Linked DNA regions of Homo sapiens. The protein of the gene in region 7 purifies or fractionates together with the protein of the main gene of each other region. This does not show direct contact. Each region holds a gene or a part of one and is shown on either strand. Other genes may lie near its edges.

Region 1 (4,317 bases), on a different chromosome or scaffold from region 7:
CCTCTAAAAATCTCAGTCATGTCACAAACGTTAAGTTCTTTCTCAAATGATTCCATAAATGGTTTAAGATCTTGATAGCAAATGAGTCTATAAGTTGCAGAAATTGGCAATTATATTAATCACAGAACAGTAAAGACCCTTGTTCATAGAGTTCTTGATGGGGTTTTGCACTTATCTGGGTAATAAAGACATGAATTTCTATAATCTATAACAATGCTTCAATAATACTCATACCTAGAAGCTGCAGCCCATATAAGTGGACAGATTGCTAGCTCCCTGTGATTCCTGTGGTGATAATTTGCCCAAGAAACTGGATTTGAAAGGTGTTGCAATGTTGGTGTTAACTAATATTAAATGCCATTTTTCTATATAAGGAGGAAATATGCATCTTTTCTATTATTGCAAACACCTTGTATAAATTGTATTAATCTTTTACAAAGTTCTCTACAAAGAACAGTTACAAAAGTTTAATCTATCCAAAATGTGTATGAGTAATGTGTAATGAGTTACTGTGTTAAAAATAACGTGTTTTCTAGATTACCAGACTAGAAGCTCCCTGAGTGCCCGGAGTACATCTGTCTTGTTCACTGGGTTCTTTGTATACAGTAATTGTGTTTCAGTACCTTGAGTATTTACCAGGTTGGACTTCATTGACTGACTGGTTAAATGACATGTGCAGTATGATAACGAAAGCTAAGAGTTTCTCAGTTTAAGTTATACAACAGTTCTCCCCTGACCCCCAACCTCTACCAGCCTTATTTTCCTGGTAAATACGTTCTAAGATCCACAGTGGATACCTGAAACAATGGATATTACTATATCCTATCTATACTATGTTTTTTTCTATATGTATATACCTATGATGAAGTTTAATTTATAAGTCAGGGACTGTAAGAGATCAACCACAACAATAATAAAGTAGAACAGTCATTACAGTATGCCATCATCACTACTCTTGTGCTTTGGGGCTATTATTAAGTAAAATAAGAGTTACTTTGAACACTGACACTGCCATATGTGGACAGTTGATCTACTACCCGAGACAGTTACTAAATGACTAATGGCAGGTAACATATGCAATGCAAATATTTGTTGACCAAAGGGATGATTCATTTTCCAGGCAGGACAGAGTGGGACAGTGCGTAATTTCATCACACTACTTAGCGCACAATTTAAAACTTATGAATTATTTCTGGAATTCTCCATTTTTATATCTTTGGACAGTGATTGACTCAGTTGACTGGGGGTAACAAACCCTCAAAAGCAAAACCTTGGATAAGTGAGGGACTACTGTATATATACACACAGTTGTTTTCAGACGGCTTCTGTCGCCTAGGCTGGAGTGCAGTGGAGCAGTCACGGCTCACTGCATCCCCAACCTCCCAAGGGCTCCCTAGTAGCTGGGACTACAGGTGTGTGCCACCATGCCCAGCTAATTTTTTATTTTTAGTAGAGACGAGGTCTTCCTATGTTGCCCAGGATTGTCTTGAACTCCCGGGCTTAAGCAGTCTGCCTGCCTTAGCCTCCCAAAGTGCTGGAATTACAGGTGTGAGCCACCGTGCCCAGCCGTTATACAGACGGTTACATGCAGGTGTGTGTGTATATATATATATATATATATATGTACACACACAGTCATGTGCACACACATGCACACAGTCACGTGCACACAAACACAGTCGTGTCATTTAACAATGAAGATGGGCATTGTTAGGCGGTTTTGTTGTGTTATCATAGTGTGTTTACACAAACTTAGGTGGCATAACCTACTACATATCTAGGCTGTATGGTATAGTCTATTGTCCCTAGGCAACAGATCTGTTGGGCGTGCTACTGTAGGCAGTAGTAACACAATGGGAAATATTTGTGTATCTGAACATCAAAATGATGACTGTGCCACAACATTTGTATATACTATGTGTATATACTATGGCCCTCACTATAGTAATTTCTTAGGATAAAATTGCCTGTCTTGGTTCACTTTAGTTTGGGCTCTGTAAGGCATAGAGTACATATTGATACTCCAATATATTTATTTTACCTATAGTATAAGTAAGGTAGAAAATTTAAAATGATATCTTTGCACTTAAATTGTATGTTTTTATAAGAGCGGTTTTGGATGGGAAATCCAAGTTTTTAAACTTCATTTGGAGGAATGACGATTTTCAATGACAAAAACTGAGAAACTGGTCTAAATGTACAACGTACATTACAAGACAATAGAAGGGGGAGGTTCTAGTAATCTTGCTCCATTGCCAAGTCCCACTAAAATTATATTAAATGAATTAAAATATAATTTATTTTGGTACCTTGTGTTAGAAAACAAAATGTGTAGTATATTTAGTATTTAACTTTCCTTAAATACTAAATCTTAGTCTGATGCTGGAACCTCACATGTTAATAAATAGCACTGTCTTCTGACCCAGAAGCTTCTGCAGTAAAAAATGACTGTCCCAGATAAAGGTTAATTTTCTACCCTGATATCCCTAGAGTTAAAGTTTGTGACCTTCCTGGCCAAGAATGTAAAGATTATGGTAAATTTTAAGTTCCCATGTTTACCTAAAACAAAAATCCCCCAGCCAAGCAACAAACAGCTAGCTTTGTTATTTCTAACATCTTGTCAGTTTTTGAACAGGCCTTAAAAATAATGATTTTTTTTGTTGTTGGCGGGGAGACAGGGTCTTACTCTGTTGCCCAGGCTGAAGTGCAGTAGTGCGATCAGGGCTCACTGCAGCCGCGACCTCCCAGACTCTGGTGATTCTCCCACTTCAGCTTCCTAAGTAGCTGAGACTACAGGTGCGGTGCACACCACTAATTTTTGTGTTTTTTGTAGAGATGGGGTTTCATCATGTTGCCCAAGCAGATTTCAAGCTCCTGAGCTCAAGCTATATGCCTGCTTTGGCCTCCCAAAATGCTGGGATTACAAGTGTGAACCACCATGCCCGACCTGTTACTCTTTTTATATCCTTGTTTACTTCCTGTATCCTGGGAATCTGTACCTTTACCTCAAAACTCATTTTGCTATTAGTTTGTGTATAATATTAATACAAAACATTCACACGTGATTATACTTTCACGGAGGAATCTAGCAGCCAACTGTGGAATCTATCAGCCAGCTGTTTCATTTTTAATTGAGGCAGCACTGAAGAGTCATGCAATTCCAAATAAAAATCTGGGTTTCAGAGTCCTCTTGAAAATGTGGAAGATCTGACAACACAGTGCTTGCAACTGTCAAGGAAGTTAATCTTCTGGAGTTGAGTAGGATTGTCCCCTTTAGCTTTCCTCCTCTTTCCCAAAGTATTATATACGGTATACTAAAACTAGTTTGATGTTCCTGTGCCTTAGTGTATTAAACTGAGCCTTGGGTTTTTTCAAGTTTAAGATCAGTGTTATGCAGGGGTTGCAGATGTGTGTGCATGCCAGAATCTGGCAGATAAAGATAAAGTACTTGCTTAATACGTTAGGTATCATGAGTTTGTTTTTTTTTTTTTTTAAGAGCCAGCATGCTCTTTGTTCAGGTAGTAATACTGATTCACCAGATACAAACTCATTCACCAGATACAAACCCAGATTGTCTCATGCAAAACTTTGACATATGTTACCTTCTCTGTGTCTTAACAGAAGACTAGACTCTTCCAGCTGGTTGTTTTCAGGTGAGAATCTGGGCCCCTAATAATCAAATAGTATTTTTTTAAGTGGGTTTTCATATTAAATCCTTAGAATTTTTAAAAACAGCATTCAAGAGCTGAGTTTATCCTCTAGACTGCTAGTGTAAAACTTTTAGATAGATTTGAATTTTAGCTCTAAATGTAAATACTGTTTAATGTAGGATTGTTTCATTAAGCTTATTTCTTGAACTGGCACATTATAAAAAAATCCATCTTTTTGTGACATCTTAATTTTGGAACAAAATTTTATAGATTTTAACCTGAGGTCAGGAGTTCAAGACCAGCATGGCCAACATGGCAAAACCACTTCTCTACTAAAAATATAAAAATTTAGCTCGGCGTGGTGGCAGGTGCCTGTAATCCCAGCTACTTGGGAGGCTGAGGCAGGGAGAATTGCTTGAACCTCAGAGGCGGAGGTTGCAGTGAGTTGAGATCATGTCACTGCACTCCAGCCTCGGCAACAGTGAGACTGTCTCAAAAAAAAAAAAAATTTTTTTTTTTTTTTTTTTAAAGATTTTAAGTGATTTTTTAAGGCCGGGCACGGTGGCTCATGCCTATAATCCCAAGACTTTGGGAGGCCAAGGCAGGTGGATCACCTGAGGTCAGGAGTTCGAGAACAGCCTGGACAACATGGTGAAACCCTGTCTCT
Region 2 (4,317 bases), on a different chromosome or scaffold from region 7:
GCTAATTTTTGTATTTTTAGTAGAGGTAGGGTTTCACTGTGTTGGCCAGGCTGGTCTCAAACTCCTGACCTGAAGTGATCCGCCTGCCTCAACCTCCCAAACTGCTGGGATTATGGGCGTGAGCCACCACGCCCAGCCTTTATTTTTTATTTTTTTAAAATTTTTAATAGAGATGAGGTCTTGATATGTTGCGCAGGCTGGTCTTAAACTCCAGAGCTCAAGCAATCCTCCTGCCTTGGCCTCTCAAACTGCTGAGATCACAGGCATGAGCCACCATGCCTGCCACACCCCCCCCCCTTTTTTTTTAACAGCTGGAAATGATTTATCCATTAAGTACAGTGATATGGTGCCTAGGACTTATGACATTCTTAGGGGCCCACAAAAGTGTTTCAATTTCTTTAAAATCAGAAGCTGTAGGGCTGGGCACGGTGGCTCACGCCTGTAATCCCAGCACTTTGGGAGGCCAATGTGAGCGGATCATGAGGTCAAGAGATTGAGACCATCCTGGCCAACATGGTGAAACCCTGTCTCCATTAAAAATACAAAAATTAGCTGGGCATGGTGGCACACGCCTCTAGTCCCAGCTACTCGGGAGGCTGAGGCAGGAGAATTGCTTGAACCAGGAGATGGAGGTTGCAGTGAGCTGAGATCGTGCCACTGCACTCCAGCCTGGGTAACAGAGTGAGACTCCCTCTCAAAAAAAAAAAAAAAAAAAATCAGAAGCTGCAGAGGATAAGTAAACAAATGGGTCAGGCAACGTTCCTCTAAAACTTGATTTAGGAAAACAGGTGGTATGCTGGATTTGACCCCTGGGCCTTAAGAGTGATAAGGGTGTATCCGGAAGCTAATAGTAGTTGTTTTCAGGGGGACTCTGAGGTTATGTTTTCTTTGCTTATTCCAGGTAGCTTTAAAAAGAAAAGAAAGTTCACCCATAATCCTGTCCCATACAGAAATTTATATAAAGCTGTGGATCTCGCGTGTTTGCAGAGCGCTCTAGTCTGTGGAGAGTATTTTGTGCTTAAGGTGCTGGGAATAGCAATGAGGCTAGGAAAAGCTGAGGCTCAGACTGTCCTCACCCAGCAGCAGGTGCAGCCTGGCTCTTTCTGCGCACTCATCTATTCCTCCGCTTATCCTGGGAAGTAAATGCTGTCATCATCACCCCTGTTTCATCTTCCCCTAAGCCCTTGGCAGCTGAGGGACCGTACACTCCACTCATTGATATTTTTTTTGTTTGTTTTTGAGATGAAGTTTTGGTCTTGTTGCCCAGGTTGGAGTGCAGTGGTACGATCTCGGCTCACTGCAACCTCTGCCTCCTGGTTTCGAGTGATTCTTCTGCCTCAGCCTCCCGAGTAGTTGGGATTACAGGCATGTGCCACCACACCCGGCTAATTTGGTATTTTTAGTAGAGATGGGCTTTCTCCATGTTGGTCAGGCTGGTCTCGAACTCCCAACCTCAGGTGATCCATCCACCTCGGCCTCCCAAAGTTCTGGGATTACAGGCATGAGCCACCCCACCCGGCCATAAAGGGTGTTGGATGAATGAACATACCCCCATTTTATAGATGAGGAAACTGAAGTAAGACACATTGATCCACTTGCCTGTGGTCATGTGGCTGGTGAGGGCCAGCCCCTGGATCAAGGGGTGGCTCTGGTGCTGCCCTCTTGACCCCTCTCCTTCCCTGGCACTGTCCTCACACCACTCTGCTGGCATCCTTGCCTGTGGTGTGGCCTCTGTCAGCCATCTCCATCGTGTGACTGTGGCATCATGACTGTAGTACTTAGCACAGTGCAGCGGGCTCTTTGGGGGCGAATGAGGTGACATACGAAGCACCATGCCTGGTTTGGAGGAAGAGGCAAACCTTTGTCATTGCCACTGTCACTGGTCAGTGGTGTCTTTGAGTCCTGAGCAGATGTAATTCCTTGGGTGGGGACTCAGCACAGAGTGAAGAGCTTGGGGTGAAGACCAGCCTTCCTGGGCTCCCCAGCTCTGCCATTTCCTGGCTCTGCACTGGAATCTCACCCTCTACCAAACGGGAGAAACTCCCACGAGAGGCAGCTGGCGCAGCAGGCCAGAGCTTGTTTTTGTCTTGGAGGGGGACTTAGGTTTGAATCCCAGCTCTCCCCCTGCAGCCTGTTTTCCTGTTTCTTCTCCCCCCAGGATGGAGTGTGGTGTTGTGGTCATAGCTCACTGCAGCCTCCACCTCCTCCTGGGATGGGTCGCCGGCACTGGTCAAGATAGTTCCTAGTTTCAAGGCCAGGGTACATTGCCCAGGGTCAGGCCAGTGCTGTCTCAGGATATGGGAGTGCAGGTTCGGGGCCGCACTGACTGAGTTTACACCCTGACTGCTGCCTTCTCTCTGTGTGCCCTTGGGGAGGATACTGCAGCCCTCTGCCTCAGTTTCCTCCTGTGACCTTTGGGTTAAGAACCATGGTGTGCAGTTGTTGGGAGCATCCTACGGCTGGCTCCTGTGAAGCACTTGGGGCTTCCTGGGCAGGACCTGGTGGCCCAGGGAGTGTCCACGGCTGGGCCAGCAAGCAGGCACCAGGAGGGAGGCAAAGGCCCTGACCGCCTCTCTCTCCCTGTTCCTTTGCAGTTTCTCCACAGTCGAACTCCTCTAGGCCCACCTGTGCCCGTCACCTCACCTTGGGCACGGGAGACGGGGGCCCTGCCCCACCCCCTGCCCCCTCCTCTGCATCCTCCTCCCCTTCCCCTTCTCCCTCATCTTCCTCCCCTTCCCCTCCCCCACCCCCACCGCCCCCTGCACCCCCAGCCCCACCTGCCCCCCGATTCGATATCTATGACCCCTTCCACCCCACCGACGAGGCCTACTCTCCACCGCCTGCTCCGGAGCAAAAGTACGACCCTTTTGAGCCCACCGGCTCCAACCCCAGCTCATCAGCGGGGACCCCCTCACCTGAGGAGGAAGAGGAGGAGGAAGAGGAAGAAGAAGAGGAAGAGGAAGACGAGGAGGAGGAGGAAGGCCTGTCCCAGAGCATCAGCCGCATCTCGGAGACCCTGGCGGGCATCTACGATGACAACAGCCTGAGCCAGGACTTCCCAGGTGACGAGAGCCCCCGCCCGGACGCGCAGCCCACACAGCCGACTCCCGCCCCTGGAACGCCGCCCCAGGTGGACTCCACCCGGGCTGATGGAGCCATGCGCCGGCGGGTCTTCGTGGTGGGGACCGAGGCAGAGGCTTGTCGGGAAGGCAAGGTCTCGGTGGAGGTGGTGACCGCTGGTGGAGCCGCCCTCCCGCCGCCCCTGCTGCCGCCCGGCGACTCGGAGATCGAGGAAGGGGAGATCGTCCAGCCGGAGGAGGAGCCCAGGCTGGCGCTGTCCCTCTTCCGCCCCGGCGGCCGGGCCGCCCGGCCTACACCGGCCGCCTCGGCCACCCCCACGGCCCAGCCCCTTCCTCAGCCTCCCGCTCCGCGGGCCCCCGAGGGGGACGACTTCTTGTCCCTGCATGCGGAGTCGGACGGCGAGGGCGCCCTGCAGGTGGACCTAGGGGAGCCGGCTCCCGCGCCGCCCGCCGCCGACTCGCGCTGGGGCGGCCTGGACCTGCGCCGCAAGATCCTGACCCAACGGCGGGAGCGCTACCGCCAGCGCTCGCCCTCCCCGGCGCCCGCGCCCGCCCCGGCCGCCGCTGCTGGTCCGCCCACGCGCAAGAAGTCCAGGCGGGAACGCAAGCGCAGCGGCGAGGCCAAGGAGGCCGCCTCGTCCTCGTCGGGCACCCAGCCAGCGCCGCCCGCCCCGGCCTCGCCCTGGGACTCCAAGAAGCACCGCTCGCGGGACCGCAAGCCCGGCTCCCACGCCTCGTCGTCCGCCCGCCGCCGCTCCCGCTCCCGCTCCCGCTCCCGCTCCACCCGCCGCCGCTCGCGCAGCACCGACCGCCGCCGCGGGGGCAGCCGCAGGTCGCGGTCCCGGGAGAAGCGGCGACGGCGGCGGCGCTCCGCCTCCCCGCCCCCGGCCACTTCCTCATCGTCGTCCTCGAGGCGCGAGCGGCACCGCGGGAAACACCGGGACGGTGGCGGCAGCAAGAAGAAGAAGAAGCGGTCGCGGTCCCGGGGTGAGAAGCGGTCTGGGGATGGCAGCGAGAAGGCCCCGGCGCCCGCCCCGCCGCCCTCTGGCTCCACCTCGTGTGGTGACCGCGACAGCCGCCGCCGGGGGGCCGTGCCACCCTCCATCCAGGACCTCACGGACCACGACCTCTTCGCCATCAAGCGGACCATCACGGTGGGCCGGCTTGACAAGTCCGACCCCCGAGGACCCTCTCCTGCTCCGGCCTCCTCACCTAAGCGGGAGGTCCTGTACGACTC
Region 3 (4,317 bases), on a different chromosome or scaffold from region 7:
TAAACATAGTTTGATAATTAAGACAAAAAAATTAGTAGGGTGCTAATTAATAATTTTAGATCTAAGAATAGGCTCACACCTATAATCCTAGCACCTTGGGAGGCTGAGGGAAGAGGATTGCTTGAGTCCAGGAATTTGAGACCAGCCTGGACAACATGAGACTCCATCTCTACAAAAAATAAAATATTAGCTGAGTGAGGTGGCACCTGCCTACTATAGTCCCAGCTACTTGGGAGGCTGAGGCCAGAAGATCTCTTGGGCCCAGGAGGTAGAGGCTGCAGTGAGCTGTGATCATACCACTGCATTCCCACCTAGGCAGCAGCAAGACCCTGTCTCAGAAAAGAAAAAGGACAAAAAAATGGCTCACAAAAGAGGAAACAAAGGCATAAAAAATATTCGGTAATCAGGAGTAATTAAAATATATCAAACAAGGCCGGGTGCGGTGGCTCATGCCTATAATCCCAGCACTTTGGAAGGCAGAGACTGGGGGATAACGAGGTCAGGAGATCGAGACCTCGGTGAAACCCCGTCTCTACTAAAAATACGAAAAATTAGCCGGGCACAGTGGCGGGCGCCTGTAGTCCCAGCTACTCGGGAGGCTGAGGCAGGAGAATGGCGTGAACCTGGGAGGCAGAGCTTGCAGTGAGCTGAGATCGTGCCACTGCACTCCATCCTGGGCGACAGCGAGACTCTGTCTCAAAAAAAAAAAATGAAACAGTTGCCTTTTTTGACTGGTTAAATGATCAGGTAGGAAGAATTTTACATGTATTTATGGGCACTTATTTGTAGTTTTTAAATTACATACTTGGTACTGGCATAATAGGAGAGCTTGCTGGTGATCTTTATGAAGTGACATAGTCTCATTGGGAAGTCATCTGTCTACATTTGTTGAGAGCCTTAAAACTTTTAGAACCTGTTTTATTCTATTTGTGGAGACCTGAATTTAAAACATAGAGAAGTTTTGTACGTAAAGATGTTTGGTGATGTGATTTTACAATTGAAAGTGGGCTAAGTGTCAAACTACAGGTCAGCCATTAGGTAAATCACAGTATATCTCTCAGTGAAGTTTTCCATAGTCAACCACTATAAACCATAATTATGCCAGAATTATGAAAGACAACAATATAGATAAATGTGAATCATAAACAACATTAAAAGTCTGATAGAAAATAGTAGGCCCATCCAGCCTGGGCAACATGGTGAAACCCTGTCTCTACAGAAAAAAAAAAAAATCACACATGGGGCATGCACCTATAGTCCCAGCTATTCAGGAGGCTGAGGCAGGAGGATCACTTGAGTCCAGGAGGTTGAGGCTGCAGTGAGCCATGATTGCACCACTGTGCTCCAGCCTGGGTGACAGAGCAAAACCTTGTCTCAAAAAAAAAAAGCCAAAATGGTAGTGTTTTTAGGCACTTCCAGAAGTCTTATTAACCTGACAACAGTGTTGAGAAACAACCCAAAAACGAATGGCCACCAGGTGGAAGGCTTCCAGCGACATCCCCACATTCCCAGCAGAGTGTTGATAGCTCAGGGCCACAGCCAGGACAGCACAGCGGGGGCTGGGGAGAGGTGCTACTGTTCATACCCCATTCTTGAAACAGCATACCTTCAGCAGACACTTGTGAAGCAGTTCATCATCCTAGGCACTCGTCATGCAAAAACTGAAGATGGCCAGTAAAAGGCCCCGTGCACTTCCCCAAAAGTTGGGCTCCTATCTCCATGACCCAGGCTCCCGGCCTCAGCCTCCTGCCTTGGTAGGCCGCCAGGAGGCCTGGTCAGCAATTCTCTGGCCTGGCTGGCATGTTTGTTGTGCACTGCCTGCAGCTCACGTTAGGATCTGTGACTTTTGCAGTGTGATTTGTTCATCCAGGAGGGGGCCCGTCTGGGAAGAACCCCCGCTGAAGTCGTCTCAACCTGCGACATCACTTTCGCCTGCGTGTCGGATCCCAAGGCGGCCAAGGACGTAAGGACCCCCTCCCTCCCCTCAGCAACTCCGGGTCACAGCCAGGATTGCTGGCTGGCCTCTTCCCCTCCTCCCCTGCACACCAAGTGAGTGTCCACATGTGGGGGGCTGAATTTCCCATCAGGGGCCATCTCCCATTGTGAAGGGTGTTTGCATTAATTGAATACAGACTTCCTTTAATTCAGATCAAAGAATGAACACTACTAGGGCCCTTGAAGTCTGTGCTGAAATGTGTCTTGAACAGGCTTCATGTGTTCTTGTTGAACTAGAAGCTTTGGAACTGAATGTGCCTTTGGTCCAGGTGCCAAGCTTCTATGTTTAGCTGTCACTGTATTTGTATATTTTAGAAGTTCAAGTGTGGTAGTCATCTTATTAAACTGGTGACTAGCCTAATCCAAGTAAATCCAAAGAAGTCCCCAAAGTAAATGCTGAGGTTTATTCTTTTAAATGGGGTTTGTTTTTTTTTTTTTTTAAATAAAAAGAAATGCACACACTCACATAGATTCTTTTTAAAGATAAATGGGAGCATGCGGGAAGTACTTTTCTATCCCTTGCTTATTTCATTGTTCTTCCCTTTTCAGCTGATAGAAATCAGGAAATGAGCCAAAACAGCAGCAGGATTCTGATCTGAGGTCTGTAGGGCTCCTGAGCATCTGCCCGGGAGCCTGGGCTATTGCTTCTCCCTTGTGTCCCCACAGCTGGTGCTGGGCCCCAGTGGTGTGCTGCAAGGGATCCGCCCTGGGAAGTGCTACGTGGACATGTCAACAGTGGACGCTGACACCGTCACTGAGCTGGCCCAGGTAGCAGCCTTCCTTGGGCTGGCTCTCCAGCATCTTTTCTATCAGAGCCCAAGACCCAGGCTTACAAGAGTGGGCAGTTAAGTTACTCTAGAGCCAAAGCCAGAGAGGGAAGAGGAGAGGCGAGTAGCCTTGGGACTAGCCTATCCCGTGCTCCACCTTCAAACCGCAGCTAGTCTGAACAGCCATGGGCAGTCGCTGCATGGCTGGGATGGGCATCAAGTCCTGGAGCTGCCAGCCTTATGATGAGAAGCAACCCAGGCCGCCCGCCTGGCATTGGGGTTTGAGCAGCTGTCTGCATTTGACACTGGCAAAGCATCCCTCCTCCCCGAGCATCTGGCCCAAATAAGGGAGTGGGGACTTTGGGACCCACATATGTTCTGAGGGGAGGGCAGCATCCACAGGGGAGGTGTGTGTTCAGCCGAGCCATTGACATGGTCACATCTGGTTCTAGTTGTTGGTCTCTAAGAAATTCCAGTCCGGGCGCGGTGGCTCACGCCTGTAATCCCAGCACTTTGGGAGGCCGAGGTGGGCGGATCACGAGGTCAGGAGATCGAGACCATCCTGGCTAACACGGTGAAACCCCATCTCTACTAAAAATACAAAAAAATTAGCCGGACGCGGTGGCGGGCACCTGTAGTCCCAGCTACTTGGGAGGCTGAGGCAGGAGAGCGGCATGAACCCAGGAGGCGGAGCTTGCAGTGAGCTGTGATCGTGCCACTGCACTCCAGCCTGGGCAACAGAGCAAGACTCCGTCTCAAAAAAAAAAAAAAAAATTAGCCAGGCATGGTGGCGGTTGCCTGTAGTCCCAGCTACTGAGGAGGCTGATGCAGGAGAATGGCATGAACCCGGGAGGCAGAGTTTGCAGTGAGCTGAGATTGCGCCACTGCACTCCAGCCTGGGCAACAGAGCAAGACTCTGTCTCAAAAAAACAAAACAAAAAAATTCCGGCCAGGCGTGGTGGCTCACTCCTGTAATCCAAGCACTTTGGGAGGCCGAGGCGGGCGGATCACAAGGTCAGGAGATCAAGACAATCCTGGCTAATATGGTGAAACCTGTCTCTACTAAAAATACAAAAAATTAGCCAGGCGTGGTGGTGGACGCCTGTAGTCCCAGTTACTCGGGAGGCTGAGGCAGGAGAATGGCATGAACCCGCGAGGCGGAGCTTGCAGTGATCCGAGATCGCTCCACTGCACTCCAGCCTGGGCGACAGCGAGACTCCACCTCAAAAAAAAAAAAAAAATTCCAAGTCAGTTGGGTTCCTGTGTGGAGACCCCAGCGTCTCATCACTGCTGTGATTCGGCCTGTGTGACCTGCACATGGTTAGCTCCTGAGTTTAGGTGTCAGCTAAAGGACCTTGGTATGGGTGGCCGTCCCCTCCAGCTCTGGAAGGTGATGAGCAGCCGTGGCCACTCAGCAACACTCCTTGAGTCCTGCCCAGAGAGCGCTGGGAGAGGGGAGGCCTCCAGAAGCTGTGACTTTTCTTTCCAGGTGATTGTGTCCAGGGGGGGGCGCTTTCTGGAAGCCCCCGTCTCAGGGAATCAGCAGCTGTCTAAT
Region 4 (3,180 bases), on a different chromosome or scaffold from region 7:
TCGCTCAAGTCCAGGAATTTGAGCCCACAGTAAGCTACGATTGCACCACTGCACTCCAGCCTGGGCAACAGAATGAGACCTCATCTTTAAAAAAAAATGGTTAAGATAGTAAATTTTATGTTATGTGATTTTACCAGAATTTAAAATAAAATAAAAGTCATAACAGATCATCAAAAAAATAAATCATCCAGGTGAAGAGAGGAAAATAAGTTTGATTGTGGAACTGGCCAATTTAAAGAACTCAATAGTTTTACCAAATCGTTTGTTACAGTACATCAATACTGCATTCATGGTTTGATAAATCTACATTCGTATTTTAGATATTTGGTACTGATAAAATTTGCCCTTTTCAAATTCTTTATTAGAAAAAACTTGTAGAAAAATTCTAAAATGATTTCTTCAATAGGCTTTGAATATTTTGCTTCAGACCACTCTTCTGACTACATGAAGTATGTGTCTTTATTCACAAGCTTGCACAATCCCTGCTGGACAATTCTGAGTGATGGCAGCTCCCACCTTTCCTTCTTCCTTCACTTAGACTACATTTATTCAGCATCTGTATTGTTGGAGTAAGTTCCATGTTAATACTCACCACTGAGGATATGTTAATACCACTTAACTTATGCTCCAACTGATGTAAAACACTGCCTAAATGGCCTTTTATCCTTTCACTTAACTTAGTAAGAACACACATCATAAAAAATCTCCAAAACCCATCATAAATGCCAACGTTATATGTTTTATTTTTAATCAAGTAATTTTTTTAAACCTCAACATATCCATAATTGACAGAATAAGACATTAGGCATGAAATGAGAATATAAAACCCAGAGTGTACAGAAAGGCAAACAGTGCTTCAGTCCCTCCAGATGACTGCATGCGAGTGAAACGCATTCCAAACATCTACCCCTTTTTTGTCTTTTAAAAACATACAGTTCAAGTGTTTTTATTTTCACTTGTAAACAACATGAGTCAAAATGGACAATGAGGTAATCTAAATACTACACAGGATAATTTAAAAACACTAGATAAAACACCATTATTAAAGACATATAAAAATCAGGGTTCACTTTGGTCTCTAGTACGGTTAGTTGTTAATACCAAAAAGCAACACATACTAATTGAAGCCAGCTTGGTGGTAGGTGCCAGTGGTTGATAGATGTGATTCAAGAGGTAGTCAACACCATCATTTTCAAGCTGGTAACTCTCACAAGTGTTAAGCCACAGATGCATTAAATATCATAATACTTCTCACAGTACAGTACTTTACCATAACTTGCAGCTTTGTTCCAAATATAAAATTTAAAAATGAATCATAGGTCAACTTCTCACTCTAACTGAACAATTAAGACACAGATCATACAACCACCACATCTTAAAGAGGCTGTTGACAGCTATGTAAGACAGAGTTTGATGCTTTTAACAAGATGTTCTTCTCTAAAACAAATAAATCTCATTAAGACATCTAGAAAATTAAAGTCAGTGCAGCTGCACTTGTACATACTTTCCCAAATTTTATAACCAAAGGGGAAATACACATATATATTTTATGATAAACATTTCTTAGAGAAAACAGATAAATTAATTTAAATTAACTTTAAGACTTAATGAGATTTCCCATGTCCTGTATAATTCATCTTATAGTGAATGTTACAAAGTCTATTAACACTTATGGGCTCCTATTCACAAACTAAATACAACCAGCAGTAACTTGGGGCCGCACTGGTGCAAAATAAAACTGAGCCAGAATAAAAAAAGTATCGGCAATATTGGAGGTGGACTGATGCTAATAACATGACATTTCTTGATCTTTTTTCTTACATTGCACTCTAAACTTCCAAGTTATAAGCAGGTAAAAATCTTTCTAAATCTTTCAACTGCAAAAATACATCCAAGGCCTTCTAGTGAAGACTAGAAACCCAAGTATAAAAATGTTTTCATTATAGTCTGCCATGTAGCAAAAGATCAGCTTACAGGGCTAAGAGACTGGCAATGCATCTTGTTTAGGAATTACATTTGTGTTGACATGAGGGTGAGGTCAAGAGATAACTTAATTCACAGACCTGCTGCCCCACCATTAGTAATCCCTGCAAAGTGATGCTTCACACAGACCCTTTTCCCTCAATAGCTAGTAATGGCATTGCATGTTCATTCCTTGGCAAGCCAGTGCTAGTTAGTTATGTGCCTGGGGCTATAATGCTGCAATACGCTTGGCTTCAGGGCAGCACAGACAGTAAATGAAGGACATTGGCGTCTTTTAAACTCTTTGCCTAGCATGAATACCTGCATACACCAACCCCTCTCCCTGCTACCCCTTCCAACCTCCACCTCTGGGCAAAGTGGTGCTTCTAAGACTGCTTCCGTGTTCTGTTTTGCTTAAGTTGAACAGTGCCCATAATTCTTTAAACTAAATACATGATTATTTTAAGGAAATGTTTGGAGACTTTGCTAACTAAAACGAGATGCTTCATTATTCACAAGTGTTTGTCAGAAACATGCAGTTGTGAATTGCTATTTATAATACAGATAAAAAGGTTCTGTACCAGAGAATTATCAGCCACCTGTAAGGCTGGAACAGCATACATACAGGTGTGCTATGTATCAACTATGAGGTAGCCTTTTGCTGTAAACAGAGTAATATTTTACCTATGTAAATGAACAATGTGTTCACATCAGTGATATTCACATATGCACAGAGTTGAGGGAATCTGCTTTAGAGGAGTTTTCACATGAAATAAAAATAGGATAACTGATATCTGATATTCAAAAATTTTGATCTGTGTCAAACTCAGAGGTAGTTACTATCATCAGTACATAATACTTATATAAAGGTATAAGTTATTTGGTTTGTTTTGAGTAAGCAGGACTGTAGACTAGTCTGTAAAGAAACAACAAAAATATTACATGGTATGTTCCCTGAGCAAAGTTCTTTGTCCTGAGTATGTTATGTAATAGTGATAATATTCTCATATAAAAAATAAACCCCAACTTTCAACCATAAGATAGGTTTGGTATGTGCTCTTAGTTTAGTCTGGTAAGATGATGAAAAGGATTTCAAATTGCACCCATAAAGACCATAGTTCTCAAGTGTTTCTATTTTTTTTTACCATGATTTTAGCTCTGAATTTCTTTTTGTAAACAGGAAGTGTCCAATTTTGAAGTCCATAATTTCCTATTTCC
Region 5 (4,317 bases), on a different chromosome or scaffold from region 7:
AGAAAAGGCAAAGAACTTGAGGCAAAGAAAAAAAGCAAAGTAAAGGGAAAGAGGGTTACAAGGAAAGAGAAAAAACTGTCTTTTAAAACACATATTGCCTAAGAAAAATAAAAGGGCACATTAGCAGATAAACATATAGGAAGAAATCTCTACTGCCAGGAGATGTTTACAAAAGAAGGCAGTGTTGGACATATTGAGACTGGTCAGACTGAACAAGAATCAGTGCTGTCATGATAAAAAAACATGAGGCAAAATCCAGAATAGCTTTTGAAATATCCAACAACCTGTAACCCCTCTGTGACTTCATTTCCTTGTCAAAGAAGTGGGAATTTATTCTACAAGCTGCAAGCTGTTTCTCTACGTAAGCTAAGTTTTCTCAGGGAATACTTAAAGGGATGAAGGAAAATAAACCTTTGGAAATCTGTATTTAAAAATCTTAAATAATTCAAGATATGGGTTTTATTATAATTAGCAAATCTATTTGAATTTGAAAAGGGAAGTTTCAGATTTCCTAATTAAACATAACTGTTCTGGTTTGTAGAATATTAGCTGTGGGTCACTCTTTTCACAGCAAAAATTCTTCTGGGGTTAACCCTTGCCCAGCAGTTATGGAAACAATGAGCTACAAGATTAAAGTGGCCAAAGACACTTAAATCACTACTGAAAAGTTTGGATGGGTGTAGAAACTACAAGAGACCCGAATGGGAGATTCGGACTAAAGCTCATTGGGATAGCATTTGAAATACAAAGTGTTCATTGACTGAAATCAGCAAGATTTAGAAAGGACAACAAACACTCCTCACTTAATTGCACATTTATTTCCATGTTCAGGTGGCAAGAATGAGCTCCTAAGCCAACATTCAAGTGAACAGCTGCAGTAGGCTGTGTGCGCTGAAAATTACAGCATCTCTCTGCTATAGGACCATCTGCTCAGAATAAAATGATACTAATGTGCTATATTTTACAAATAATGCATATTCCATTGATAGGCTCAACACAACTGTTCACAGAATGCAAACTCTTTCAACAGTTACTGGGCAAATAATTTTCAGCCAGATTTACAATTTCAACTTTTTTTTTGGAGCATAAAGAATTGTAAATAACTTCAAAATTTAGTAACCAAAAAAATACATAGTAAACAGAATGTATAGAATTACGGTAACTTAGTATTCAGACCATACCAAAACTTTTTTTGTTTTTTTAAAAAAGCTTGTCACTCTTTTGAGTCTGCGCTAAATCCTAATTTAGATTGTAAAAAAATTACATACGAGAGCATGGTTCTGATGCTACATACACCACTACAGTTAAAATTGCAATGTGCTTTAAGTCCTAATGATGGCCATACCACAATAGGTTAAATGTAAGAATAATTAGTATGCCAAATGAAAGATTCAAGTGTTTGGTATGGCCTCAGCACTCCTCCAACATGCTAAAAAAAAGTAGCCTACAGAATTTAAGAAAAATCCCACAGACCCCGGTCCAAGGCTCTGCTGCCCACGAACCACTTCTAAGCAGAGAAGCCACATCACACAGTCTGACTGCCATGTTAGTTTGGAGTTGCCGTCTGCAATATGGACACAAAAAGTACCGTATGTTAGATGAGCAAGATAATGCAACAAATCAGTTTGTACAAAATTTACAGTGATTGTATTGATATTCCCAGCACGTCCATGCAGTGTGGCTTAATTGAAATTGAGGCAATTCCAATCTAATCTTTCCAAATTCATTTCAACATGTAGTTTTCTTGCACAAATATAAGCATTTTTAATTAAGAGCCTGATTTTAAAACAGTATTAACTAGTTATCTTGGCATCTATTCTGAAGAACTAATGTAAACCACACCTCAAAAATTTAAAAAATAAAGTAAAATAAAGCAAAATACTGCAGGCTGTCTTATCTCTTAAGGATGTGGGAGAAGGGAGGAAATGTGAATGAAATTTTATAGTGGGAAAAAGTCATCATGCAATTCCTAAGTGATTGGTTTGCATAAAAGCACTCTTTCCCCAAAATATCAGAAAGACATTAAGAGAAGCTATATTTGCCCACACTGTTACATTATACTATAAATGATCCTTAATCCTGGGACTTAAAATTAAAAGTGAATCGAAACCCTGTGAGGTTATTTTGCCACTACAGTCAAACGGTTTCTAACAGTTTCAATGAGAATTGCTCACATATACTAAGAGGCAGTAAACCAGCATCTTTCAATTGAAATAATTGGACCGATAAATAGGATTGTTTGGAGTAATGCTCGCATAGGATGTCAGCTTTGTCCCTGAACGAAATCAAGTGAACATTTTTTAATATGTAAATTGTAAACCCAGCACGATTTGAAATTAGTGCTGCTATGAGGCCTCCAATATAGTTAATGGGCCATTTACCACTTATTGAAACTTGCCCAAATACCAAACAGAGCCATGATATTGGCACAAAAGCCAAAGTTTACTTTTTTTGCCATATATGCAGATGCTTCAAATGGTCAATATAATCAGAAAACTTAGTTTCTAAAAATAGACAGTGAATAACAGAAGAGGTCCAAAAATGTCTTTTACTTATTGATAATTATAAAAATTTTATCCTGAGAGGCAATCCTGGCTGTGATTTACTCTTGATATTAGCAATGCCGCCAGTAACGATGGATTCCACTTTCTGGCATCTATCAAAAAGGATTAACATACTTTTTTACAGGAAGCCATGAAAATATTTTACTCTTCTTCCGTTCTCCCACTGTAACAAGAGATTTTGGTCTGACCCTATGTTATTTTTCAAAAAACTACTTATAGTTTAACTGAACCTGTGAAAAAGTGCTTTACACCCATGAAAGATTTTTCATAAGAACCCAACTGTAGTTAAGACTACATGAGCAGGACCACACCCAGCAGGGTAAAGCAGGCATAAATGTATGTCCTGAATACCTTCAGGAGTTCAATCTAAACATTGCTCACTACATAAAACAGATTTTAATTTAACTGCCTCAGTCCCTTCTATTTCATAGGAGGTGGACACTAATGAGCTAATCTATTGACACCCCTCTTTCTGAAAGCCCCAGGGAGGTGAACAATCACTTTATTGCACCAACTAGATAGGAAGGCTGTGTATGGAAAATGATTCTACTGCACTTTTACATTTCAAGCACCCCAGACAGTCTTCTCCGCTTGAGGCAGACACATACCTTTATGGGAAGTTATAAATAAGTTGCTCACATGGCCCTTACCTTTATGCTGGCCAACAATTCAGTTACTAAAAATGTAAAGCTACTTCCCCTTCACTTAAGGACAGGCAATTCTGCTCTACTCAATCTACCACAGACAACTGGGCTGTGTACTATTTATAGATTCCACTGGCTCTGAAACTCTTCGGAAAGAAAAAAAAGGCCATATTCCAGTGAAACAGAGCCATTAATTTTAAGGCTTAAAAAAATAATGTTTCAATATATATTCTCCTCTTAATTTAGACATCACTTGTGCCAATTCAGACTGCTTTTCCTCCTGTTATTATCCAAGTAATAATTTACGAAAAGGCACTTTAGCATAGATGAATCTAGAATATTCTAAACTTTCACTGGGCTCCAAGGTAAAATGGCTGTTACTATGGTGAAAGCGTAGGTTTTATTGGGAAATAGAAGATTGTCTCTACTTTTATACACACAGGTACTTCCAAAAAGCCATAAAGACTTCTAAACTTTTTATTTAAATAATCCTTTATGAATTTTAACATCTACTGTTTTCACAATAGTGGAATTTAGAAAATAAATGCTTTATATCTCATATCTGGGAAGAGTTAAGAATTTGAGAAGTCAAACTGATCCAATAGTTTCCTGGTCACATGAGAGAAAAGCAGTCTATATTTTCTAATCTTACAATTAAAAAATTCTGCAAACTAAGGTAATCAGCTTCTTCACTATTTTCAAACCTCTTGCAGACAGCCACTAAACCAGGTAGTTAATCAAAAGCATCTTAAATAGGCCAGACTCGGCGGCTCACGTCTGTAATCCCAGCACTTTGGGAGGCTGAGGTAGGTGGACCACTTGAGGTCAGAAGTTCAAGACCAGCCTGGGCAACATGGTGAAACCCCACCTCTACTAAAAATACAAAATATTAGCTGGGCGTGGTCTGTAGTCCCAGCTACTCAGGACGCTGAGGCAGGAGAATGGCTTGAACCCAGGAGGGGGAGGTTGCAGTCAGCAGAGATCACACCACTTCACTCCATCCTGGGTGACAGTGAGAGACTCTGTCTCCAAAATAAGTAAATAAATATATCCTAACTATATTCTGAGAGTTGTTATTAAGTTCACTCAGTATAATGTTGCGAGGAGGG
Region 6 (4,317 bases), on a different chromosome or scaffold from region 7:
GAAGTAAGTGGTGTTTGGGGCTTTGTCTGGCCCTGAAGTGTTCTGGGTATACTGATCTGGTTCAGAAAGTGCTTAGTCAGTGCCTTTCTTATACTAGCTTTAGAGGGATGGGCATCCTGTGTCCTAGAACTGATACTGTCTAAAATTCCCATGGGCAGACCTTTCCAGGACTGGGCCAGACTCAACACAAGGCCCTTGCAGTGGGGTGCGCTCAGAGCAGAGGGCCTTAAGAATGGCTCCTCTGTTTACAACACACCCAACAGGAATCTGGGCTTACTCCTCACAGGTGGCATGATACTTTGGCCTTCCTGTGACATCATGCCCTATACATGTCTCCCCTGGAGAAGCCCAAGGGACTGCTTTGCACAGGGCCAGTGGGAAATGGCTCAGTATTGGAGGCCAAGACCATAAACTGTGTTTGGTAGTGAGTCTGGGGCTGGAGGGTCTTAGAAATCCCTCTCCAGGGGCTGTTTGTATTTGTTTGGAGGAGGTTGCCACCTGGTGTCTAGTGCTTAGACAGCAGGGTTGCTTGGTTAGAAACAAGTTTCATTTCCTTTTTCCAAGGTACCTGGAGTACAAGAGGGTCCCTAACAGCAGACCACCTGAATATGAGTTCTTCTGGGGCTTGCGCTCCTACCACGAGACTAGCAAGATGAAAGTCCTCAAGTTTGCATGCAGGGTAAGAGGAGAGCTGCCCGAGCTTGGCATATTAAGGCAATGGGATACCCTTGGCTGGGGCAGGCAATGCACAGGGATGGGCAGGTACAGAGCAGCCTGCAGCTCATATATAAACATGTGGAGCCTCCTTTATGTCCCAGGGTGCTGCTAGATATATAGTTTACATCATCTCATTCATTCTTCATACTTTGTATTAATCAGCATGGGCTGCCATAACAAAATACCATAGACTGGGTGGATTAAAAAACAAATTTATTTTCTCATAGTTCTTGAGGGCGAGAATCCTAGGTCAGGGTCCACGAGGGTCAGTTCCTGTTGAAGGCTCTCTTCCTGGCTTGCAGATGGCTGCCTTCTTGCTGTGTCCTCACATGGCTTTGTGTGTGAGAGAGAAGAGAGCAAGCTTTCTGGTGTCTCTTCTTATAAGGACACTAATCCTGTTGATCAGGACCCCACCCTTATGGCCTCATTTAACCTTAATTATCTCCATAAAGGCCCTATCTCCAAGTACAATCACACTGGGTGTTAGGGATTCAACATACGAATTTGGGGGCGGGCACAACCCTTCAGTTCATAACATATTTACGCTCTATCATTTCCTGTAATTATAAAGACACTTAGGCTAAGTGAGGTTAAGTAACTTGTCCAAGGTCATATAGCACGTAAGTCAGCAGAGCTGAAACTGGAGTTCAGAACTGACCCATGATAGAGCCCCAATAACTGAGAAGTTTAAAAAAGTATTGCTACTAGTTTAATACAAAGCCCGTAGGTTAATACATGATTACTAGGGTTGTTTTCTTATTATGATTATCATCCCCATTTCAGGTGCAGAAGAAAGACCCCAAGGACTGGGCTGTGCAGTACCGCGAGGCAGTGGAGATGGAAGTCCAAGCTGCAGCTGTGGCTGTGGCTGAGGCTGAAGCCAGGGCTGAGGCAAGAGCCCAAATGGGGATTGGAGAGGAAGCTGTGGCTGGGCCCTGGAATTGGGATGACATGGATATCGACTGCCTAACAAGGGAAGAGTTAGGCGATGATGCTCAGGCCTGGAGCAGATTTTCATTTGAAATTGAGGCCAGAGCCCAAGAAAATGCAGATGCCAGCACCAACGTCAACTTCAGCAGAGGAGCTAGTACCAGGGCTGGCTTCAGCGATGGTGCTAGTATTAGCTTCAATGGTGCACCCAGCTCCAGTGGTGGCTTCAGTGGTGGACCTGGCATTACCTTTGGTGTTGCACCCAGCACCAGTGCCAGCTTCAGCAATACAGCCAGCATTAGCTTTGGTGGTACACTGAGCACTAGCTCCAGCTTCAGCAGCGCAGCCAGCATTAGCTTTGGTTGTGCACACAGCACCAGCACTAGTTTCAGCAGTGAAGCCAGCATTAGCTTTGGTGGCATGCCTTGTACCAGTGCCAGCTTTAGTGGTGGAGTCAGCTCTAGTTTTAGTGGCCCACTCAGCACCAGTGCCACTTTCAGTGGTGGAGCCAGCTCTGGCTTTGGAGGCACACTCAGCACCACGGCTGGCTTTAGTGGTGTACTCAGCACTAGCACCAGCTTTGGCAGTGCACCCACAACGAGCACAGTCTTCAGTAGTGCGCTTAGCACCAGCACTGGCTTTGGAGGCATACTCAGCACCAGTGTCTGTTTTGGTGGCTCTCCCAGCTCCAGTGGTAGCTTTGGTGGTACACTCAGTACCAGTATCTGCTTCGGTGGCTCTCCCTGCACCAGCACTGGCTTTGGAGGCACACTTAGCACCAGTGTCTCCTTTGGTGGCTCTTCCAGCACCAGTGCCAATTTTGGTGGTACACTAAGTACCAGCATCTGCTTTGATGGCTCTCCCAGCACTGGTGCTGGCTTTGGTGGTGCTCTCAACACCAGTGCCAGCTTTGGCAGTGTGCTCAACACCAGTACTGGTTTTGGTGGTGCTATGAGCACCAGTGCTGACTTTGGCGGTACACTAAGCACCAGTGTCTGCTTTGGTGGCTCTCCTGGCACCAGTGTCAGCTTTGGCAGTGCACTCAACACCAATGCTGGTTATGGTGGTGCTGTCAGCACCAACACTGACTTTGGTGGTACACTAAGCACCAGCGTCTGTTTTGGTGGCTCTCCCAGCACCAGTGCTGGCTTTGGTGGTGCACTCAACACCAATGCCAGCTTTGGCTGTGCCGTCAGCACCAGTGCCAGCTTCAGTGGTGCTGTCAGCACCAGTGCTTGCTTCAGTGGTGCACCAATCACCAACCCTGGCTTTGGCGGTGCATTTAGCACCAGTGCTGGCTTCGGTGGGGCACTTAGTACCGCTGCTGACTTCGGTGGTACTCCCAGCAACAGCATTGGCTTTGGTGCTGCTCCCAGCACCAGTGTCAGCTTTGGTGGTGCTCATGGCACCAGCCTCTGTTTTGGTGGAGCTCCCAGCACCAGCCTCTGCTTTGGCAGTGCATCTAATACTAACCTATGCTTTGGTGGCCCTCCTAGCACCAGTGCCTGCTTTAGTGGTGCTACCAGCCCTAGTTTTTGTGATGGACCCAGCACCAGTACCGGTTTCAGCTTTGGCAATGGGTTAAGCACCAATGCTGGATTTGGTGGTGGACTGAACACCAGTGCTGGCTTTGGTGGTGGCCTAGGCACCAGTGCTGGCTTCAGTGGTGGCCTAAGCACAAGTTCTGGCTTTGATGGTGGGCTAGGTACCAGCGCTGGCTTCGGTGGAGGACCAGGCACCAGCACTGGTTTTGGTGGTGGACTGGGCACCAGTGCTGGCTTCAGTGGCGGACTGGGCACCAGTGCTGGCTTTGGTGGTGGACTGGTCACTAGTGATGGCTTTGGTGGTGGACTGGGCACCAATGCTAGTTTCGGCAGCACACTTGGCACCAGTGCTGGCTTTAGTGGTGGCCTCAGCACCAGCGATGGCTTTGGCAGTAGGCCTAATGCCAGCTTCGACAGAGGACTGAGTACCATCATTGGCTTTGGCAGTGGTTCCAACACCAGCACTGGCTTTACTGGCGAACCCAGCACCAGCACGGGCTTCAGTAGTGGACCCAGTTCTATTGTTGGCTTCAGCGGTGGACCAAGCACTGGTGTTGGCTTCTGCAGTGGACCAAGCACCAGTGGCTTCAGCGGTGGACCGAGCACAGGAGCTGGCTTCGGCGGTGGACCAAACACTGGTGCTGGCTTTGGTGGTGGACCGAGCACCAGTGCTGGCTTTGGCAGTGGAGCCGCCAGTCTTGGTGCCTGTGGCTTCTCGTATGGCTAGTGAGGTTTCAGGTAACTGCAATATTTCCATAGCCAGGACCCACAGGGATGGGTACAAGAGCTGGGAGATGTTGTAAGAAACACTAAGGCAGGACAGCAGGGTGGAAAGGTGAGGGCAATTAAGGAATTATGAGAAGACAGTGTATTTGGTGCTAAAATGTGTTCCTATTTGTTTTGTTTTCAGATTTATTCCCCATGTTTACAGATACCGCTAATAAATTGCAGTAGTCCTTCCCATGGAGCCAAAGTACATCCTTGGAATCTTTGTCCACACAGCAGTCAAGGCAGTTATGGCCAATCAGCTGAGGGTGTCATGTGATGGAAAAATCTGTTTGCTGTTCCTGCTTTATTGTTTGCTTTCTGTGTGCTGTCATATTTTGGTATCAGAGTTACATTAAAT
Region 7 (4,317 bases):
TTACCAAAATTTATAAACTGTGAATTTGCATATAATGATAATTGGTTTATTACATTTGAAACAGAAGCTGATGCACAACAGGTAAGTTCTTTCCACCATCACCCTATGAATTGCATAGTTTACCAGTTTTTACTATTAGTGCATGTTGGGACTAAACTTGGGCATTGAGATTACTTGTGATGGTAAGTTTGAATATAATCTGCAGAGGAAATCAAGTTGTAGAAACTTAAATATTTGAGTGTATTTGTATGGACAATTTTTATAGCAATATAAAAAGCATGTGATTTTACTTTCTAAGGACAACAAGCTAAGCAACCTAGGAAAATCAGTTTTGTTCTTCTATCTGGGCAGAGAAGTTTTACTATTTGCAAAGTGTTTGGGGGGAAATTTGAACCTAATCTTCATCTCCCAGCAGACTTCATTGTATTTTGGAAGATGCTTTTAATGGTATTGAGAAGTAAGCTCTGTAAGGAGGCGTGAGGAGTTAGTAGTTTTCCTGCTTTTAAGGGAAGCATCTTATTTGTGAGGAAACTAACGCACATATTATAAAGTGTTAAATGGTATAAACAGTATGTGGGGTTCAGAAAAGAAAACACAGAAACCTGAAAGATGGGTTTTAATTGGATGGAGGGGGAAAAGGGGAACGGAAGATAGAGTAACCATTTTTGTGGAGTGGAGTGTGAGCTCTGCCAGCCCGTGTGGCGAATGTGGTCGGATGATATTGAATCAGGTGCAGGGCCTTCACAGTTTTATAGGGGTTTAATGTAGAATTAACATGGAGAAGAACAAGGAGATATATCAAGAATGACTTTTGGATGTTATGATCCTAATCCTTTTCCTTCCTGTCTGGTATTTCCTGAACTGCATTCTCCTAATCTGAAATTGGGATGAATACTAGGAACTCAGTATTCATCATTTTCCACCAGGTCAAGGTTCTTAGCCAGTGGTCTTTGGGAGACTTCTATGGCATCTGTTAATACTTACAAAATTGTGTACAAATCTTGTTTGTGAGAATTTGGGGTACACGTTCCATAGCTCTTATGAGGTTATTTTAAGGGATCTGTGACCCAGGGAGTGTCAAGAATCATTATTCTAGGTTCTGTTCACCATAATTTAATTATATATTTCCCTATTTGAGCTATTGAGTGAACTATTGGTGCCTCTTATTCATAAGGTTAATCGAATGGAATTTTGTACTTAATTTTGCCCTTAGGCTTACAAATACCTTCGAGAAGAAGTCAAAACTTTTCAAGGAAAACCAATTAAGGTAAGCAAGACCATTGGTTATACTTTGTTTATTTGCAAATTGATGTTCTTAAGTATTCTAATAGAAACTTACATATTTTCAAACAGGCACGGATAAAAGCAAAGGCAATAGCTATAAACACATTTTTGCCAAAGAATGGATTTAGACCCCTGGACGTGAGCCTGTATGCCCAGCAGCGCTACGCGACGTCGTTCTACTTCCCTCCCATGTACAGCCCCCAGCAGCAGTTCCCCCTGTACAGCCTGATCACTCCCCAGACGTGGTCAGCAACGCACAGCTATCTTGACCCACCCTTGGTACGTCATTTCTTTACTAGGAATTTATGTTGTAGACACTATGCTAGATAATTTGAAGGATTAAAATCCTCATCTAATAGGAAGCCAGATATGTGTGCAGTCTGACATACTAAAACAGACCTTCAAGTTATGTGGGGGATTTTAAATGTAGCTGAGAACAGAGCTTATGCATAAAGAACTTTGGATTGCTGTGAGCACAATCCTTGCACAGCCCGTCTCCCCTCTTGTCATGCAGCTCTTAGCAAGACGCAGAGGGCGATAAGTGCTGTAGTGTACCTGGCGTCCCCTACACAGAGTACAATGCAAGGGGGATTAACTGAGGAGGAAGAGGTGTTTAATAGGCTTCTGACAGCAAGGCCAAGGAGAAGGCCTGCTGTTTTACCAGCCTTATTTTACTCACTTCTCACCAGCATTAGAGTTGGTCGACAGGATTAATTTTTATGGATTTTGGCCTTTGTTAAGGCCTATGGTTGGAATTCATAAGTCTGTACTGGATCTAGACATTGTCTCTTTGTGTGCTGCTATAGATGCTTGAAAGATCAAGTGCATTCTGGGTGGGAATTAGCATGAGTTTGGTGGCATTGGATGCACGAGAGTCAGCAATACACGGATGAGCATGTCCTTGAAGCTGAAGTCTAGTTGAGAAGTGAAGATGGGTTCATGGCCTAGAGGTTTGCATGAGGTAGCAATGCAGGTTAGTTGGAATTGGAGAGATTGAAGGGTAGCATACATAGAAGGTTATGGTCAGAAAGCAGAAATTGAGTTAGTAACTTTGAGAAGAGTTCATGTCCAGGGTTTCGCTGTGGACTAAGGGAAAGACTGAGTGGTCCTCAGGGTCGGATGGCTGGGAGCCAGGCACCCTGATGTGCAGGGATGTCACCGCTGACAGGCAGAAAAGGAGGGTAGGTGCAGAGCAGAGAGAACTTGAGAAAACAAGTGCCTGTATACACGGAAAGTAAAGATACGGGTCCATGAAACAACTCAGGCTGGAAAAGTCAAACATGCCAAGGAGACACGTGTACAGAATGCCAGAACACTGACAGGTCTTATCAGGGATTGTGTTGTCATCTAGGTTGAGCTTTTCAGGTTAAGTATGAGTTTTTCAGAAGGAATCAAAGAGAAGTTTCATGAACAGAAGATGGTCGTAGATTCATGGGTGTCTGAGCTGAAGCGTACACCGGGTGGCAGGGAGTTGGGGAACGAGCTGGCAGTTTCCAGGCCTAACTGCGCAGGTGCTTAGCTGTCCTGAGGCATGTGGGCTTTGGCCTAGTGCTTGTGGGAAGGTGTCTGAGGTTTCTAAGCGGAGAAATGAAACCATACTCCATTTAGAAAATAGCTCCTAAGGCCGTGTGAAGGGCAGGTGGGGACAGGGAGAGATTTTCAGAGGACCCCAATTCCCCCTGAGTCTGGAACCACCGCAGTGTAAGAACCTTTGGTAAAGTTACTTCTGTCTCTTTTGAGTAAGTCCTGATGGTAAGAAAAGTTTCTGGCTTTTTGAAGTAGCACATTCTATAAAAGTGTACCCATAGCTGAATACTTCGTTTTCCCAAAAGCATATCATGAGAGAACCTCAGAGAGACTTGAGTCCGTAGGCTCTGGGTGTTGAAGAATCATCGCTGCACGTGGCTTGCCATGCTAGTCCTTTCAGTTCTTCCTGCAGCAGTTGCTTCTTCCGTTTCTTTAATCATGGTTGACCCTCTCGGGGATCCTTGGGGTTCTGGGTCAGCTTATGGCCTTGACTTATGTTGTATGTTCAGGTTGCGGTGTGTGCCAGACAGCTGGTCCTGCTCTGAGTCTGTGATACTGGGGCTCTCCATCGCAGCCTTTTACTTGTGCTAAAACATGTGCGTCCTTTGTTCTGCAGCTGAAGAGATTGTGCCTATTAATCCCCAACAAGTAATAATAGGAACGCATTAATAATCAACTTTATTTTTTATATATGACCAATTTTATTTTTTATCTTGAGCAAAATTACTGGAATATCAGGGCTCTGTCTGTAAAATGACTTGCTGGAAATGATTAGTCCTCATTGCTCTGCCCATGATTTACAGCCTCAGATCCAGGTCTGCATTCATGGCTCTTCAAGTGTGATGTATTTTCTTTTTCTTTGAGACAGAGTCTCTCTCTGTCGCCCAGGCTGGAGTGCAGTGGCCGGATCTTGGCTCACTGCAAGCTCCGCCTCCCGGGTTCACGCCATTCTCCTGCCTCAGCCTCTTGAGTAGCTGGGACTACAGGCGCCCGCCACTACGCCCGGATAATTTTTTTGTATTTTTAGTAGAGACGGGGTTTCACCATGTTAGCCAGGATGGTCTTGATCTCCTGACCTTTTGATCCGCCCCCCCTTGGCCTCCCAAAGTGCTGGGGTTATAGGCATGAGCCACTGCGCCCGGCCATGTGTGATGTATTTTAAAAAGTCCGATTCTTACAGAGTGAAGAGTTTCTCAAGTAGCAAATTGAAGATTCTAACTTCCCTTTTGTATGATTTTATTTTAGTCCTAAGCTATAATATTCTTTTTCTGTTATATCTTCCAGTTAGCTCTAATTAAGGAGAATTACTTGCTTTTTTCCTTTCCTTTCTCTCTTCCTCCAAACAAGGAGGGCTCTATGCGTATCTCTGTCACTTTAGTGACATTGAGGGTGTGGACTGGAAGGCCCTCAGGAACTAAGTGCCCTGTGTCAGGAGCATAAGGAGCGAGATATCAGTGATGCAGAACGTATTGGAAACCATGGGTCCAGAAGCCAGAGAATTAGAAT

What was found.
Region 1: the proteins of LARP4B (region 7) and YTHDC1 purify together in Homo sapiens (affinity purification with mass spectrometry; one large-scale study listed by BioGRID and IntAct). This does not show direct contact.
Region 2: the proteins of LARP4B (region 7) and SCAF1 purify together in Homo sapiens (affinity purification with mass spectrometry; one large-scale study listed by BioGRID and IntAct). This does not show direct contact.
Region 3: the proteins of LARP4B (region 7) and GLYR1 purify together in Homo sapiens (affinity purification with mass spectrometry; one large-scale study listed by BioGRID and IntAct). This does not show direct contact.
Region 4: the proteins of LARP4B (region 7) and LIN28B purify together in Homo sapiens (co-immunoprecipitation; one large-scale study listed by IntAct). This does not show direct contact.
Region 5: the proteins of LARP4B (region 7) and ELAVL2 purify together in Homo sapiens (affinity purification with mass spectrometry; one large-scale study listed by BioGRID and IntAct). This does not show direct contact.
Region 6: the proteins of LARP4B (region 7) and TRO purify together in Homo sapiens (affinity purification with mass spectrometry; one large-scale study listed by BioGRID and IntAct). This does not show direct contact.

The regions. Positions count from the first base shown.
Region 1 is NC_000004.12:68,343,385-68,347,701, reverse strand, and holds part of YTHDC1 (YTH domain-containing protein 1), read left to right. Parts: intron 1-4,317. UniProt on the Homo sapiens protein: Regulator of alternative splicing that specifically recognizes and binds N6-methyladenosine (m6A)-containing RNAs.
Region 2 is NC_000019.10:49,648,274-49,652,590, forward strand, and holds part of SCAF1 (splicing factor, arginine/serine-rich 19), read left to right. Parts: intron 1-2,594; coding exon 2,595-4,317.
Region 3 is NC_000016.10:4,812,183-4,816,499, reverse strand, and holds part of GLYR1 (cytokine-like nuclear factor N-PAC), read left to right. Parts: intron 1-1,852; coding exon 1,853-1,963; intron 1,964-2,544; exon of another isoform or gene 2,545-2,661; coding exon 2,662-2,763; intron 2,764-4,251; coding exon 4,252-4,317. UniProt on the Homo sapiens protein: Cytokine-like nuclear factor with chromatin gene reader activity involved in chromatin modification and regulation of gene expression. Acts as a nucleosome-destabilizing factor that is recruited to genes during transcriptional activation.
Region 4 is NC_000006.12:105,080,872-105,084,051, reverse strand, and holds the end of LIN28B (protein lin-28 homolog B), read right to left. Parts: 3' UTR 720-3,180; downstream 1-719. UniProt on the Homo sapiens protein: Suppressor of microRNA (miRNA) biogenesis, including that of let-7 and possibly of miR107, miR-143 and miR-200c.
Region 5 is NC_000009.12:23,763,536-23,767,852, forward strand, and holds part of ELAVL2 (ELAV-like protein 2), read right to left. Parts: intron 1,565-4,317; coding exon of another isoform or gene 1,474-1,564; intron 1-1,473.
Region 6 is NC_000023.11:54,927,103-54,931,419, forward strand, and holds part of TRO (trophinin), read left to right. Parts: coding exon 1-3; intron 4-202; exon of another isoform or gene 203-333; intron 334-564; coding exon 565-679; intron 680-1,500; coding exon 1,501-3,918; 3' UTR 3,919-3,929; intron 3,930-4,101; coding exon of another isoform or gene 4,102-4,236; 3' UTR 4,237-4,317. UniProt on the Homo sapiens protein: Could be involved with bystin and tastin in a cell adhesion molecule complex that mediates an initial attachment of the blastocyst to uterine epithelial cells at the time of the embryo implantation. Directly responsible for homophilic cell adhesion.
Region 7 is NC_000010.11:826,631-830,947, reverse strand, and holds part of LARP4B (la-related protein 4B), read left to right. Parts: coding exon 1-81; intron 82-1,213; coding exon 1,214-1,267; intron 1,268-1,353; coding exon 1,354-1,563; intron 1,564-4,317. UniProt on the Homo sapiens protein: Stimulates mRNA translation.